Linked DNA regions of Homo sapiens. The protein of the gene in region 1 interacts with the protein of each later gene in a biochemical or structural test. Each region holds a gene or a part of one and is shown in the gene's direction. Other genes may lie near its edges.

The links. The genes of interacting proteins can lie anywhere in the genome.
Region 2: the proteins of LGALS9 (region 1) and RNF13 form a complex in vitro, tested with the Homo sapiens proteins (one study listed by BioGRID).

What each region holds. Positions count from the first base shown.
Region 1 is NC_000017.11:27,641,187-27,648,215, forward strand, and holds part of LGALS9 (galectin-9), read left to right. Parts: intron 1-1,051; coding exon 1,052-1,162; intron 1,163-2,338; coding exon 2,339-2,434; intron 2,435-2,646; coding exon of another isoform or gene 2,647-2,772; exon of another isoform or gene 2,773-2,849; intron 2,850-4,127; coding exon 4,128-4,163; intron 4,164-4,674; coding exon 4,675-4,725; intron 4,726-5,360; coding exon 5,361-5,402; intron 5,403-5,843; coding exon 5,844-5,932; intron 5,933-6,083; coding exon 6,084-6,246; intron 6,247-7,029. UniProt on the Homo sapiens protein: Binds galactosides. Has high affinity for the Forssman pentasaccharide. Ligand for HAVCR2/TIM3. Binding to HAVCR2 induces T-helper type 1 lymphocyte (Th1) death.
Region 2 is NC_000003.12:149,816,214-149,823,242, forward strand, and holds part of RNF13 (E3 ubiquitin-protein ligase RNF13 isoform 1 precursor), read left to right. Parts: intron 1-1,073; exon of another isoform or gene 1,074-6,360; intron 6,361-7,029. UniProt on the Homo sapiens protein: E3 ubiquitin-protein ligase that regulates cell proliferation. Involved in apoptosis regulation. Mediates ER stress-induced activation of JNK signaling pathway and apoptosis by promoting ERN1 activation and splicing of XBP1 mRNA.

The sequences.
Region 1 (7,029 bases):
TTGCAAGCAGAGTAGGTCTCTGGGCTTGAGAAGCCTGTGGGTAAGTCAGTCCAAGTATGCTTATCTGAGATAAGGATGTCCCCATTCGTTCAGTATGCAACCTGAGGTCACCTCTCCTCTGCTCCCCATGAGCATTTTATGCATATATAAATAATACCGCTGCAGCCATAAAAAGGAATGAGATCATGTCCTTTGCAGGAACATGGATGGAGCTGGAAGCCTTTATCCTTAAACTAACGCAGGAGCAGAAAACCAAACACCACATGTTCTTACTTATAAGTAGGAGCTGAACGATGAGAACACATGGACAAAATGGGGGGAAACAACACACCCTTGGGCCTGGTCGGAGAGGGAGAGCATCAGGAAGATTAGCTAATGGATGCTGGGCTTGATACCAAGGTGATGGGTTGATCTCTGCAGCAAACCACCATGGCACCCGTTTACCTAGTTAACAAATCTGCACATCCTGTACTTGCACCCTGGAACTTAAAATCAAAGTTGAAGGGGATGGAAATGGCAGATCACGCCTATAATCTCAGCACTTTGGGAGGCTGAGGAGGGCGGATCGCTTCAGGTCAGGAGTCCAAGACCAGCCTGGCCAACATGGTGAAACCCCATCTCTACTAAAAATACAAAAATTAGCTGGGTATGGTGGTGGGCTCCTGTAATCCCAGCTACTCGGGAGGCTGAGGCACGAGAATCACTTGACCCACTGCACTCCAGCCTGGGCGACAGACTGACATTCCATCTCAAAAAACAAAAAAAAACAGTTGAAGGAAAAATAAATAATTAATAAATGAAACCCCAGGTGAGCTAAGACTAGAAAGACAAACCTACTGCAGGAAACAACCAGAAGAACGAAAAGTCCAACTGGAGCCTGGTAGAGACTCGGGTTGATGCACTTTGGGTCACACACACGTTCCTGTAACTGGCCCCACACTGAAGACCAGACTCAGGTCTTCATTTTCTAGAAAGAGGGTCCAGGAGCTCAGGGGTGGTCCCCATCCCAGCCTGGGATGCCTCCCCCAGAACATGTGCTCTCCTCTGGCAGGTGATGGTGAACGGGATCCTCTTCGTGCAGTACTTCCACCGCGTGCCCTTCCACCGTGTGGACACCATCTCCGTCAATGGCTCTGTGCAGCTGTCCTACATCAGCTTCCAGGTCAGACTGTCCACCTGGCACCGGTCCCAGGGGCTGGGATGCAGGGCCCAGCGTAGCTGTGTCTAAGCCCTGCTGGGTGGGCCCAAGCCAATCTCCTACCCAGGTCACTCTGGGGACAACCTCTGCTTCCCTGTCCCAGTACCTGCCCGCCCCTTCTCCTCTGTCACTCTGCCCCTCCTTCTGTGTTACTGTCTCTGTCCGGAACACCTGCCTTGGTCTCCCAGACTCCTCAGCTGCCCCTTTCTCTTCATCCCTCAGTTTCCATCCTGGTAAGGAGGGCATATTGTTCTAGAAAGAGCCCAGGCTCAAGAACCAAACTGAATCCAGTTCAAATTCCCAGCTCTGCCATTCATCATCTGTGGGATCTTAGACAAGCAACTTCACCTCTCTCAGCCTTGGTTTCTTCATCTGTAGAATGGTCATTGCCTGCCCCCCATGGGTGGTTGTGTGGTTCAGTGAGGAGACAGATATCAGAGGTCACACAGTGGCCCCCCTGGGCCCACACCAGGGTCTGTTTGACCTCTGTGTTTTAACAACTTTGAATGTGTTGCCAACATCTAAAAGGTCAGGAGAGTCAGGTATGGTGGTGGAGGTCTGCAGTCCTGGCTACTCAAGAGGCTGAGGTGGGAGAATTGCTTGAGCCCAGGAATTAGAGTTCTGTCTGGGCAAAACAGCAAGACCCTGTCTCCAAAAAACTTTGTTTAAATAATAAAATAAAATAAATAAAACTAAATAAGGTCAGGAGATACCAATACCATGTGAAAAATGGGAAGATTAGGGTATGCTGGGCCCACATTCCCACAGGGCACCAGCAGCTGGGTGGGAGCTGCTGTTACCCTTTTGGCATTCGAGGCTGCTCCCTGAGATCAGCGAAGCACACAGTAGGCCCTCAGCAAATCTGGGCTTCTCGCCCTTTGGTCCTCATCTCTCATTCCCTCCTTCCCTGACTCTCTCCCCTGCGGGTGGTAGGGGAGGGAAGAGCTGGAGGGAGACCGCACCCCTGCACTGCTCACCAGAGCCTGGCTCTTTCCCATCCCATCTTGGCAGGGCCCTAACCCCCTTGCCTCATCGCCCTGCCTGCCTGGTCTCTCCCTCTTGCCCCTGCCTCTGCCTTTCGGCTTCTCCTTGGCTCTATTAATGCTTCTCCTCACTGCCCGGTGCCTTTTGTTTTAACAGAACCCCCGCACAGTCCCTGTTCAGCCTGCCTTCTCCACGGTGCCGTTCTCCCAGCCTGTCTGTTTCCCACCCAGGCCCAGGGGGCGCAGACAAAAAGTGAGTTCAACACAGAGGCCCTGGGTGGCCGAGCAGACAGTAGGAAGGACCGAGGGTCTGAGAGGCTGGCCCCAGCCAGCAGGCCACTCAGGGCCTACAGGCCGCATCTTGCCCACCCAAGAGTTCCCTGTCTCTGTCCGCTGGGCACCCAGAGCTGGGGACCTGGGGGTCACCCTGGATTCTTCACTCCCTCTTCTTTACGTCTCTCCAAGGCACGAACGTGTCTCCCTCCTGAAGCCACCGATGTGGTCCAGGCCTCTGGGATTCCTCACCATGACGACAGGGGTCCAGTTCCCCACCCCCTACACCCAACCACTGCCACAGTGACCTTCTTATAAGCAAATGTGATCACACCCTCTCCCTGCTTAAAAATCTTCACAGCCCCCAGCCCTTCAAATAAAGCCCAAATTCTCCAGCAGGGTATATGAATTCCTCCCCAGTCTGCCCCAATCCACGTCCCTGCCTCACCCCCAACCCACGAAGCTCACGCAGCCTCTGCAGCTCACTCAAGGCCCTCTTGGGCCACCATGCTTTTGCATATGCTGTCCCTGGTCCCGGAAGCACCCTCTGCCAGCCTGCCTCGAGCACATGCCTAATTGCCCTTCCATGCTCTGCCTAAGTGCCGCTCCTCTGGGAGTCCTCCCCGCCTGGAATATTGTTGGACGCTCCCCTGGTGTCCCCACAGAGTCTGTATGTATCTGTGCCATGCCAGTTCACAGCACCCCATTGTAACTGTATTTGCGTGTCTGTCCCCGTTACTCCACCCCCATGTCCCTATGCCCATGAGGCCCCAGAGGGCCAGGACTGTGGCTTGTTCATTTGCACTGTGCCTGGCACTCAGTAGGGACTCAGTGAATGAATGTGGAATGTGGTTCACACAGCCAGGGAGAATGGGATACCAGCCAGGGCAAGAACAGTCTACTGGGTGGGGCAGGATCCAGGACAAGGAGGTGAGCAGCCCTTCCTCCGGCCACTCAAGTAGTGGGGACTGGGAGGAGGGGCGCTTTGTCTACGCAGTCTTCTTATGGCTCATCACCGTACAGACAGGGCACCTGCCTCCTGCCACGCTGACTTCAGGACTGGTCGAGCCCCAGGGAACATTTGCAGGGCAGCCCAACTTTGGCCCTGGCCCTGGCGCTGGCCCTGGCTCTGGGGAGGATAGAAAGTGTGCTGGATACAGTCAGACAGAACTGGCTGCCACTTTGGATTTGATCCCTTCCACCTTGGCAAGCTTGGGCAAGTTGCTTAATCTTTCTGAGCCTCGTTGCCTCACTAGGGACACAGGAGCTGAGGCTGCTTCCCTTGTTGGAAAGCACTGAAGCCCAGGAATCGACCCACAATAGGCCTTCAACAAATACCACTTCTCACCTTATGGGTGAAATATGGCACTGGAAGTAATGCTCTTCGCTGTGGGAGCTACAGAAAGCAATGAGGTCTCTATCAAACCCAGTCTCCTCTCTCTCGAGAGGAACCAGTGGGGATACCCTACCCCCCAACCCCAAAGCCCTGTACACCTGGGGGTAAAAATCTGGGTGCCACGGGCTCAGGAAGGCTTGCTTGGGAGCAAGAGGGAGGTGGGTGTGTCCGGGGAGGCATTTCTGAGCACAAGAGCCTCCCTGGAGTTTTGCCACCATCTCCTCCCATTCTGTGGTGCCCGCGATAACCACCATTCTGACTCTCCTCACCCCTCCAGCCTCCCGGCGTGTGGCCTGCCAACCCGGCTCCCATTGTAAGTCTCTTGCTTTCTTTTTGGATCGTCCTCATTTTGGCTTTTCTGGGCTCATGGAGGAGGCAGGGCCAGGCATTGGGCCTCTCCCATTGGGAGTGGGGAGGGCACAGACCAGACCCTTGACCATCTGCCCGGCCTGGTGAGGTTGGGGGTTGGATGTGGGGGTTGGATGAAACAACCTGAGTTGCCACCCCGTGGGCAGCCACGGAAGACCATGCCCCACATTCACTTCTGTCACCTGCAAAGGGAGGCTAGGCTGAGAGACGTTTCCCCGAGAGGAAAGATGGGCCAGAGCCACCAGCGTCCCCATCTGTCTTCTCCAGGGTTCTAACCTTTGCCCCTCGCTCATCCCCTTGAGAGAAGAGACACCTGGGCCCACCCTCTGTGGGGTCTGTGGGGCCATTGGGCTTGTTACGCCCCCTGGAGGGTGCCTGCCGTGTGGCGCCCTCTGGTGGGAGCTGGTGGTTTTCACACGTGAGAGCCTGGGTGAGACCTGGTTTCTTTCTTCCAGACCCAGACAGTCATCCACACAGTGCAGAGCGCCCCTGGACAGATGTTCTCTGTAAGTCTACAAGTTCTGGTCAGTTCACAGCTGCACAGTGTCCTCCTTCACCAAAAACTAAACTCCCTAGAGCCCTAGAGTCGGGAAGAAAGCGGTTTAGCAAGGAGGATGGGGACACTAGGGGCTGAGTGCTTGGCTCAGGTGACATGTGGCTAAAGCTGTCCTTGGGACAGCAGAGATTCTGGAAGAAGCAGGGTTTATCCAGTGGTGGAAGAGACAAGTCCCCTAGAGACCGGGAGGGAAACTGGTCCATCTGTCACCAAGTGGGGAGTACAGTGGCCCCAGCACCCGGATGTGAGGTTCCTGGCCCTGCATCCTGGGTCCCCAGGATGTCACTATTGATCACAGGCTTAAGCTCTTCTCCTGATGGTGCAAATGAGGCAGGGGGGCTTAGAATTAGTGGGGCTGCCTGCGGAGGGGTTGAGGGGCAGGTGACCGTGGTGTGGTCTGGGAACACGGCAGGAAGTTCCAGGAAGGCTAACATGAAAAGGGAGGTAGACGGGCGAGTCCAAGGGCCAAAGGCTCACGAGGTCAGCCTCACAGTGGAGTCCTCTCTAGAACGCGTGGGTGCGCCTGGGTGAGTGCTCGCGCACCCATGTGCTCTCCCATTGAATTTCCTGGTTTCTTTTCAACAGACTCCCGCCATCCCACCTATGATGTACCCCCACCCCGCCTATGTAAGTGGTTTCTCAGGGAGGGCAGAGGTTCTGTTTGTGGTGGGCAGGCTGGGGGTGAAGGGCCGCTGTGGGGGGATCCACTGGCCTTGAAAAATTAAAAGCAGTCATTTGTTAAGCTGAAGGGCTTCAAAGCATCCCAGCGAATTAGAAGGCTGTGGAGAGGAGCTTTCAACCTTAAAACTGTCGTGTCAATATGAGCACATTGCATGTCCCTCCCTTTTCACCCCACGAAACGAGTCTTTTTGTGTTTGGCCAAAGTTCCTTTCATGACACTAATCTAAGCCCATTAATTTGAGGAGCACTGGAAAGTTTTCCTTTGGCTTTTATGGAACCAAGTAAAGATATCATGGGCTTCTTCTCAGCTGACAGCCCAAATTCATGGGAACTGGTACAATCTTCCCCTTCCGCGTGGTGGCTGACCTGTCCCCCTTCTTCCGACAGCCGATGCCTTTCATCACCACCATTCTGGGAGGGCTGTACCCATCCAAGTCCATCCTCCTGTCAGGCACTGTCCTGCCCAGTGCTCAGAGGTAAGCCAAGGGCTCCAGTGACCTCTGGGAAGAGAGAGCCCTTCAAGGTCAGTCCAGCCATTCCCCTGGCTTCAGGAAGGCTACTGATGATGGGGAGGAAATGGGACTCAGAATTCGGTGGATAAAGGTTCAGGTGGGCTGCCCACCCCAGGTTCCACATCAACCTGTGCTCTGGGAACCACATCGCCTTCCACCTGAACCCCCGTTTTGATGAGAATGCTGTGGTCCGCAACACCCAGATCGACAACTCCTGGGGGTCTGAGGAGCGAAGTCTGCCCCGAAAAATGCCCTTCGTCCGTGGCCAGAGCTTCTCAGTAAGGCACCGCAGTCTGGAGCTTGGAGAGGCTCCCATGGGTGCACAGGGGGAGGGGGTAAAGGAGGTTTGAGGTACCTTGAACAGTATGGGGGCTGATTCCTCTGGGATGAAGGCCCAAAAGAAGAGAAGGTGGCCAACAAATTATTATTATTATTACTGTCCCGCATGAAGGAAGTGCTGGGATCTGCTTTTTCAGATGAGGAAACAAACTCACAAGTGCAGGTTACTTGCTTGTGGTCACACAGTCAGTAAGTGTCAAATCAGACCCAAGAAGGAGGTGTTATTCATTTCTTCATTTACTCAACAACCATTTTCTTGTCGCCTGCTTTGCGCAGGAAGCACCCCACATGCTGGGGGCACAGTCATGAAGCACACAGACAGGGTCCTGCCTCCAGGGAGTTTATAATTTAGGTGGGGAAAGAACAAGGAAAGTAAAGCATGGACAGATTGTCACAGATAACGACAGTGCCACGCACAAAGCAAAACAGAGCGATGAGATAGAGCGAGCCTGGGAGGGGCAGCTAGGGCCAACGTGCAGAGGCACGGGTGTGGCCTGTCCAGGAACAGCAGGCAGGCGTGCTCCACCCTGACTACATATTCAAATCACCCAGAGAGCTTACAAAGGAAATATCAGTGCTGGGACCCCAGCCCAGGCCAATGAGGCAGTCAGCTGGGCATTCGTATTTTAAAAATATGCCTTAAGTGATTATACTCTGCAGTCAGAGTTGAAAATGACTGATGTAGGGCTTTGCAGCCATGGAAAGGAGCTTGGATTTTAACA
Region 2 (7,029 bases), on another chromosome or scaffold:
AAGTGGGAAGTGGGGGAATTAAGGCATCACAGATACATAACTTCTGAGTTCACACAAGTAGCTGGTGGAGTAGCTGGAATTTGATCACAGGTATTCTGACTACAGAACGTCTGTCTCTTTTGTGTCTTATTTCATTAAAAAATATGGAATGCTGTGGGGCTATTGTGGATTCGTACTTGCTGGTGACCTTGGGGAAGCTCCTCCTCAATTTCCTTAACTCCTTCCTTACTTGTTTTTGTGGGGATTCAGATAATTTGTGAAGCAATCAGATGGCGTATATGTTTAGTAAATTATATGCCTTAGCCTTTTTTTTTTTTTCATTGAGGATGAGGTCATTTGAAAGATTGTTAGCAGTTGAAGGAGGGTGGAAAAAAAAAAGTTCCACATAAGGACACTGCCCAAGCAAAGGTATAGAGATAGGAAAAGCAGAATACATTTGGTAAGGATATATGTTTAAGGACCAGACTGGTAAAGATAGATGGATACAGATTATGGAGATTCTTAAATGTCAGACTAAAGATTTTATATATGATTTTTAGTTAAGAAGAAACTCTCTTTATGGATAATAATTTGTGAACAGGTCCAATGGAAGAGTGGAAGCCTAGAAGTAGGAATACCATGCAATTTAATTATAGTAGTTGAGGCAAGAAGTGATGATCGTAGTGAAGGTATAGATTTGAAAGATGTTGACATTATAATGACATTGACACTGGGAACTGACCAGAGTATAGGCCTAGGACAAATTTTTGGGAGGATAGTGATGTTATTAACAGAAATAAGGATATTATCATGAAGAACAGGTTTTGGTGGAAGGAGATTTAGGAGGAGAGAGGATGATAGGGAGTTTACTTTTGGAGCTGAGGAGTTGTTCAGACGTTTGGAAATGTAGAATGAAAACTGGAAGTTCTGTGTATTCTATGAAAAGGGAAGAGAACAAATGCTTACATTGTAAGGAAATGACCTAAAAGTAACCACTCCTCTGTGGGTCAGAGTTTCACAAGAGGGATGTGACTCCTTAAATTACTCACAAGTACAGATTTCTCAATGAAGATGCACCCATTATTTTTCCCTTTAGTGTATTTTGATTCGTGTCCTGGGAGATCAGGAGGTAAGGTAGTGGGGAGGAAAAACTTTTAGACCTAGCAAGGCTCCCATTTATTCAAAAAATAGCTAGTAAATTGGAGGCTAGGGATTCTCACCGTAAGAATTTTGAGAGTCTGATTTTTGTGTGGTACCAGGCATTTATAAACATATGTTGAATGCTGAATTGTTGAACATTTGAACATCTCCAGATTTGTTATTTTTATTATCCTGTCTTTGTTACCTTGAATTGGTTAATAGCAAAACCTTTAGAATCAGAGACTCTGTGTGCTTGTTATGGGGGGCAACAATGAAAGTCAGGGTGCAGCTAATGAGATTGTATTTTACTTATAGCCAGGATTGTGGAAGAAGACACTCAAAGGATAAGAGGCTTACCATTTTTCCCATTCTGTAAAACCATGTTGATGACAATACCAATTCTGAGAGTTGTTTTGAAATACTGAGTTAATATATGAAAAGGGTCTGGTACATGATAGATAGTAATTGAGATGTTTTTGTTACCAGTATTATTATCTTCACAAGTGGGGGGCAAACACAGAGATCCCAGAACCTATTATAAGAAAAAAAGGAAAACATCTGGAGACCCTTTGTACTTGAAAAAGGGCTCAGGACTAAGTCATAGAAGGACTGTAGGTTTCCTTTCTTGGAAGGTTTTCTAGGGTTTGGTACAATTGGGTAGAGCATGATGTTGAATTAAGTAGTAAAATATATCCATCTCAACTATTTTCAGTTTCCTGTCAAGTTCTCAGTAAACCAACAGAAAAATGTTGTTGAGCATGAGAAGAAGGTTTACTTTTCTTGTCATACCATTTTTGGAAACATTACTTGGATCCTACTACTTAGGGGTTTTTCTGTAGCATTTATTCACTCAAATATTTGTTGAGTACCTTCTTTGTCAGGCACTGTTCTAAAGAGAAAAATCCTTGCCTGCATGGAGCTTATCTGCTAATGGGAGAAATAAGGTGCATTTTCATAATAGACGGTAATTAGATTTTTCTCGTACTATGTATTTGTACCTATTTAAGCAGATGGTAATAATGAATACTATACCAGATTGTAACTAATTTTGCAGAGCATTTGAAGGAAGGGACCATGTCTTTCTTATTCGCATTTGTCTCTCCCTTTTCCCCTTCCTCCCAGTGGAATGGCTTAGATGTGTTTAATGCTCAACAAACGTAGGTACTCATCAAATGTTTATTACAGGGAGAAGGTGTTAAGGCAGAGGCTACATCTTAAAGATTAAAGGAGTCAGTTAAATGTGGCATGTATTAAGGACCCATATACCCCCTAGATTGAGGGTGAGAAGAAGAGAATCCGGCTGGGCACTGTGGCTCATGTCTGTAATCCCAGCACTTTGGGAGGCTGAGGTGGGCAGATCACTTGAGACCAGAGTTCGAGGCCAGCCTGGGCAACATGGTAAAACCCCATTTGTACTAAAATACAGAAATTAGCCAGATGTGGTGGCGTGCTCATGTAATCCCAGTTACTTGAGAGGCTGAGGCAGGAGAATTGCTTGTACCTGGGAGGCGGAGGTTGCAGTGAGCCAAGACCGCGGCACTGTACTCCAGCCTGGGTGACAGAGCGTGACTCTGTCTCAAAAAAATAAAATAAGATAAAAATAAAAAGAGAATCCCCTGGCTTATCTATGAGGTTGGAATAGGAATAAAGTTATATTGTAGCTGAAAGCATCAACATTATGGGAGTCTGGGTGTCACCCAACATTCCCACTAATTAGCTGGGTGATTTTGCATAAATATCTTAACCTCTCAGTTCATTTCCTCACCTGTAAATGAAGTAGTTGGAATTGTCCAGTTAAAATCTGTTTTTACGACTTCTTGTAAAATATCTCTTGCACTAATGTTTCACTTCACTAACGTAGATAATATAGAGCCAAGCATGAGCTTCCATTGAATAAGCATCAAGCTAAATATATACTCTTAGTTAATAAACTAATGTTTAAGAAAAGATGTCTACAAAATTTGTTGATGCTATTTACCGGTAAGATTACATTGTAATTTTTTAAAATAGAGCAAAATATTACCTAATATATAGTTTCCCCCATTGCCATTATGTAAAGGAAAAATAAGCCATAGTATTTTAGACCTTAATAATGGATCATAATACTCACTTTCATACTTTAATTTATACAACAGTCACTTGCCTCTGATATTGTGCTAGATGCTAGGTATTGTATACAGAATTAGAAAATGTATAGCTCCTAACTTTAAGGAGCTTAAGGAATAATGGGAGTGACAGACCATTTAGTTGTGTTGCATTTTGGTGGCATAGAGAAGCATATAATGAGAGTCTGGGAGAAGAGAAAGTGCTCATGGTTACAGAGAAAAAGACTGGAGGAATGGCAAGGGACTAAGCTAAATATACAGAGACGAGCCAGTTTATGAAGAACTTTGTGCTAAACCACAGTTTAGTTCTGAGCTGTATTCTGAAAACTGCTTAATCTGTTAAGGAATTTTATGCAGGCAGTAACATAATCAGGCATTTTTATATCTACCTTTATATTCCTTTTAAGAGAAGGTGTTCCCTGAGGAAGGTATTTGTTATTTCTAGTTGTTTCAACGATGTAGATCTTCCTGAGGAAATCAGTCTTTTTAACTTTGAAATAAAGTCTGAGGAACATTGTCAATTTTGTGGTTATAGAGTTAATAATTATTAAATATTAATAATTATGAAATATTCAGACATTAAAACATTTAAATGTTTATTGCCACATTAATGTAAACTGAAAAGAAAACTGAAATTTTGGGATGTTTTGCGCTTTGATGTAAGAGAGCTCTTGGTCAGCTACAAGAATTTGGCTTAGAATCATTTTTAAGGAGTTAGAAATACGTTGACCTTGAATTGATTGAAAGTGAATGTAGTTCAGGCTCAGTTTCTTTCTTTCTTTTTTTTTTGTTTTTTTAAAGAGACCGTCTTTTTCTGTCACCTGGTATGGTCTCAAACTCCTGGCCCCAAGCAATCCTCCCTCCTCAGCTTCCCAAAGTGCTGGGATTACAGGCGTGAGTCACCACTCCCTGCCCGGGCTCTGTTTCTAATGATAGAAATATCCAGGTAAACTTTATAGAGGGAATGAATTTCCACCGGGAAATAATCCTAGTGAGGAGCTGGTGATAAATGAATATTTCTGAATGAAGTCATGAGGGAGAAACATCTACTTTATTTAGATGTGAAACACCTCATTAAATGTTGAAGAATACTTTATTTGCATACTTACTATGTTTGTCATTTACTCTTTTGACCCTCAAAGAGGAAGAGCTGCTTATAATTTCCACATTTATCCAACATGGATTATAAATGTTAATTGCTTTTTTTGGAAAAAAAATTGAGGTAAAAATTCACGTAATTAACCATTTTAAAGCAATAGTTCAGTGGCATTTAGTACCTTTGCAGTGTTGTGCAACCATCACTTCTGTCTAGTTTCAAAACATTTTTATCACTTTGAAGTAAAATCTCATACCTATTAAGCAGTCATTCCCTGATGCCCCTAGCTCATGGCAACCACATCTGTTTTCTGTTTTTATGGATTTACTTATTCTGGATATTTTATATAAATTGAATTTTCAATATTTGAGTTTTTATCCCTGGCTTCTTTCACTTAGCAAAATGTTTTCAAGGTTTACCCACATGTAGCATATATCAGTACTTCTTTCCTTTTCATAGCAGAAGAATATTCCTTTCCATGTCAGAAGAATATTCCTTTCCATGTCTATATATCAGTTTGTTTATCCATTTATCCATCGATGGATATTTGGGTTGTTTCCACCTTTTAGTTATTATGAATATGTTGCTGTGAATATTTGTGTCCAAGGATTTATTTGAGAACCTGTTTTCACTTTTTCGGGTATATACCAAGAATGGAATGCTGGGTCTTATGGTAATTTTGTTTAGCTTTTTGAGGACCTGCCAAACTGCTTTCCACAGTAGCTAAACCATTTTACATTCCCACTGGCAATGTGTGAGGGTTCCAATTTCCCTACATCCTTGCCTACACTTATTTTCTGTTTTTAAGAAATTATAATTGCCATCCTTATGGGTATGAAGTGGTATCTCACTGTGGTTTTGATTTGCGTTTCCCAGATTACTAATGATTTTAAGCATCTTTTCATGTGCTTGTTGGCCATGTGTGTATCTGCTTTAGAGAAATGTCTATTCAAGTTCTTTGCCCTTTTAAAAAACTACATTGTTGGTGTTTTTGTATTGAGTTGTGTTTTTATATACTCCAGATACTAGACTGTTCATTATCAAATATATAATGTGCAAATGTTTTCTTCCATTATGTGGATTTTTTTTTTCAATTTTTTGATAATGTCCTTTGATAGATAAATGTTTTGAATTTTGATGAAGTCCATTTTATTTATTTGACCCATGCTTTTGGTGTCATATCAAGAATCCATTTCCAAATCCCAGGCCATGAAGATTAACCCTATGTTTTCTTCCAAGAGTTTTATAATTTTACTCCTTATATTTAGGTCACTGATTCATTTTGTGTTAATTGTTGTATATGGTATAAATTCCAACTTCATTGTCTTGCATGTGAATAGTTGTCCCGGCACCACTTGTTGAAGACACTGTTCTTTTGCCATTGAATGGTCTTTGGCATCTTTAAAATCAATTGGCTATAGATGTATCAGTTTATTTTTGGATGCTCAATTCTACTCCTTTGGTCTATATATCTATCACTATGCCAGTGCCATGTTGTTTTGATTACTGTAGCTTTGTGGTAAGGTTTTGAAATTGGGAAATGTGAGTTCTCCAGCTTTGTTCTTCTTTTTAAAAATTGTTTGGCCTGTTTAGGGCCCCTTGCAATTCCATATGAATTTGAGAATCAGCTTTTCCATTTCTGCATAAAAGGCCATAGAAATTTTGATAGGTAATATATTGAATCTGTAGATTGCTTTGGGTAGTATTGCCATCTTAATAATGTTAAGTCTTTGAGTACCTGGATGTGTGTTTGATATCCTTCAGCATTGTTTTTGTGTTTTATAGTTTTCGGTGTACAAGTCTCTCACCTCCTTTGTTATATTTATTCCTGGGTATTGTATTCATTTGGATACTATTATACATGGAAGTTTTTCTTAATTTAATTTTTGGATAGTTCATTGCTGGTATGTAGAAACACAATGGATTTTGTGTGTAACATTTATTGCCTTTAACAGTCATTTACTTTCTTTTTTCCATGTGCAAGCTGAATCACGTGGGTAAATAAGAAAGTGGAAAGTGGAACACTAAAGAACTTGATCTGTAAGATGTCTGATTTCCCTGAATGTGAAAACTATGAAATATGTTTTTAGCATAGTGTTGAACTATTATCTTACTATACTTGGGCTATTCCATTTCTGGTATCACGTTACATATATTTGGTCATTATTAAAGAAGGTAGATCATTTCATTTTCTTTAGGTTTGGAGAGAAGTGTCAATACGTAATTCATTTTCAAAGTTACAATTATTTTGCAACTTAATTTTGATGTTACACAGAAAGCCTCAGGGATAAACCATATTTATCGCAGAGTCTGGTACAGAGATCCATGAATAATAAAGATAAAATTAGAACAGAAGCTAATTTGAATATGTAAATTACCATTAATATACATTAGTTTTTCTGTTTTTTCTTGAAGTTTCCAAATAGCCTTAAAATTTCATTATGAATAGAAATGTGAACAATTTCAACCTCATAAGTAATTAAAGAAATGCAAATTTATGCAATACTTGGATGATTTGGGAAGGGCAGTATTTCATGACACAGACTTTTAATTGAATCCTAGCTTCACTATTTAAGAGGTAAGTATTACTGGGCAAGTAACTGAACACTTAAAACACTTAAAAATAAGAGGAAATATTTATAAAGTGCTTGCTGTGTGTTAGGCACTGTTTTAAGCACTTTATGCTGTTGATCTAAGTTTTTATTCCTA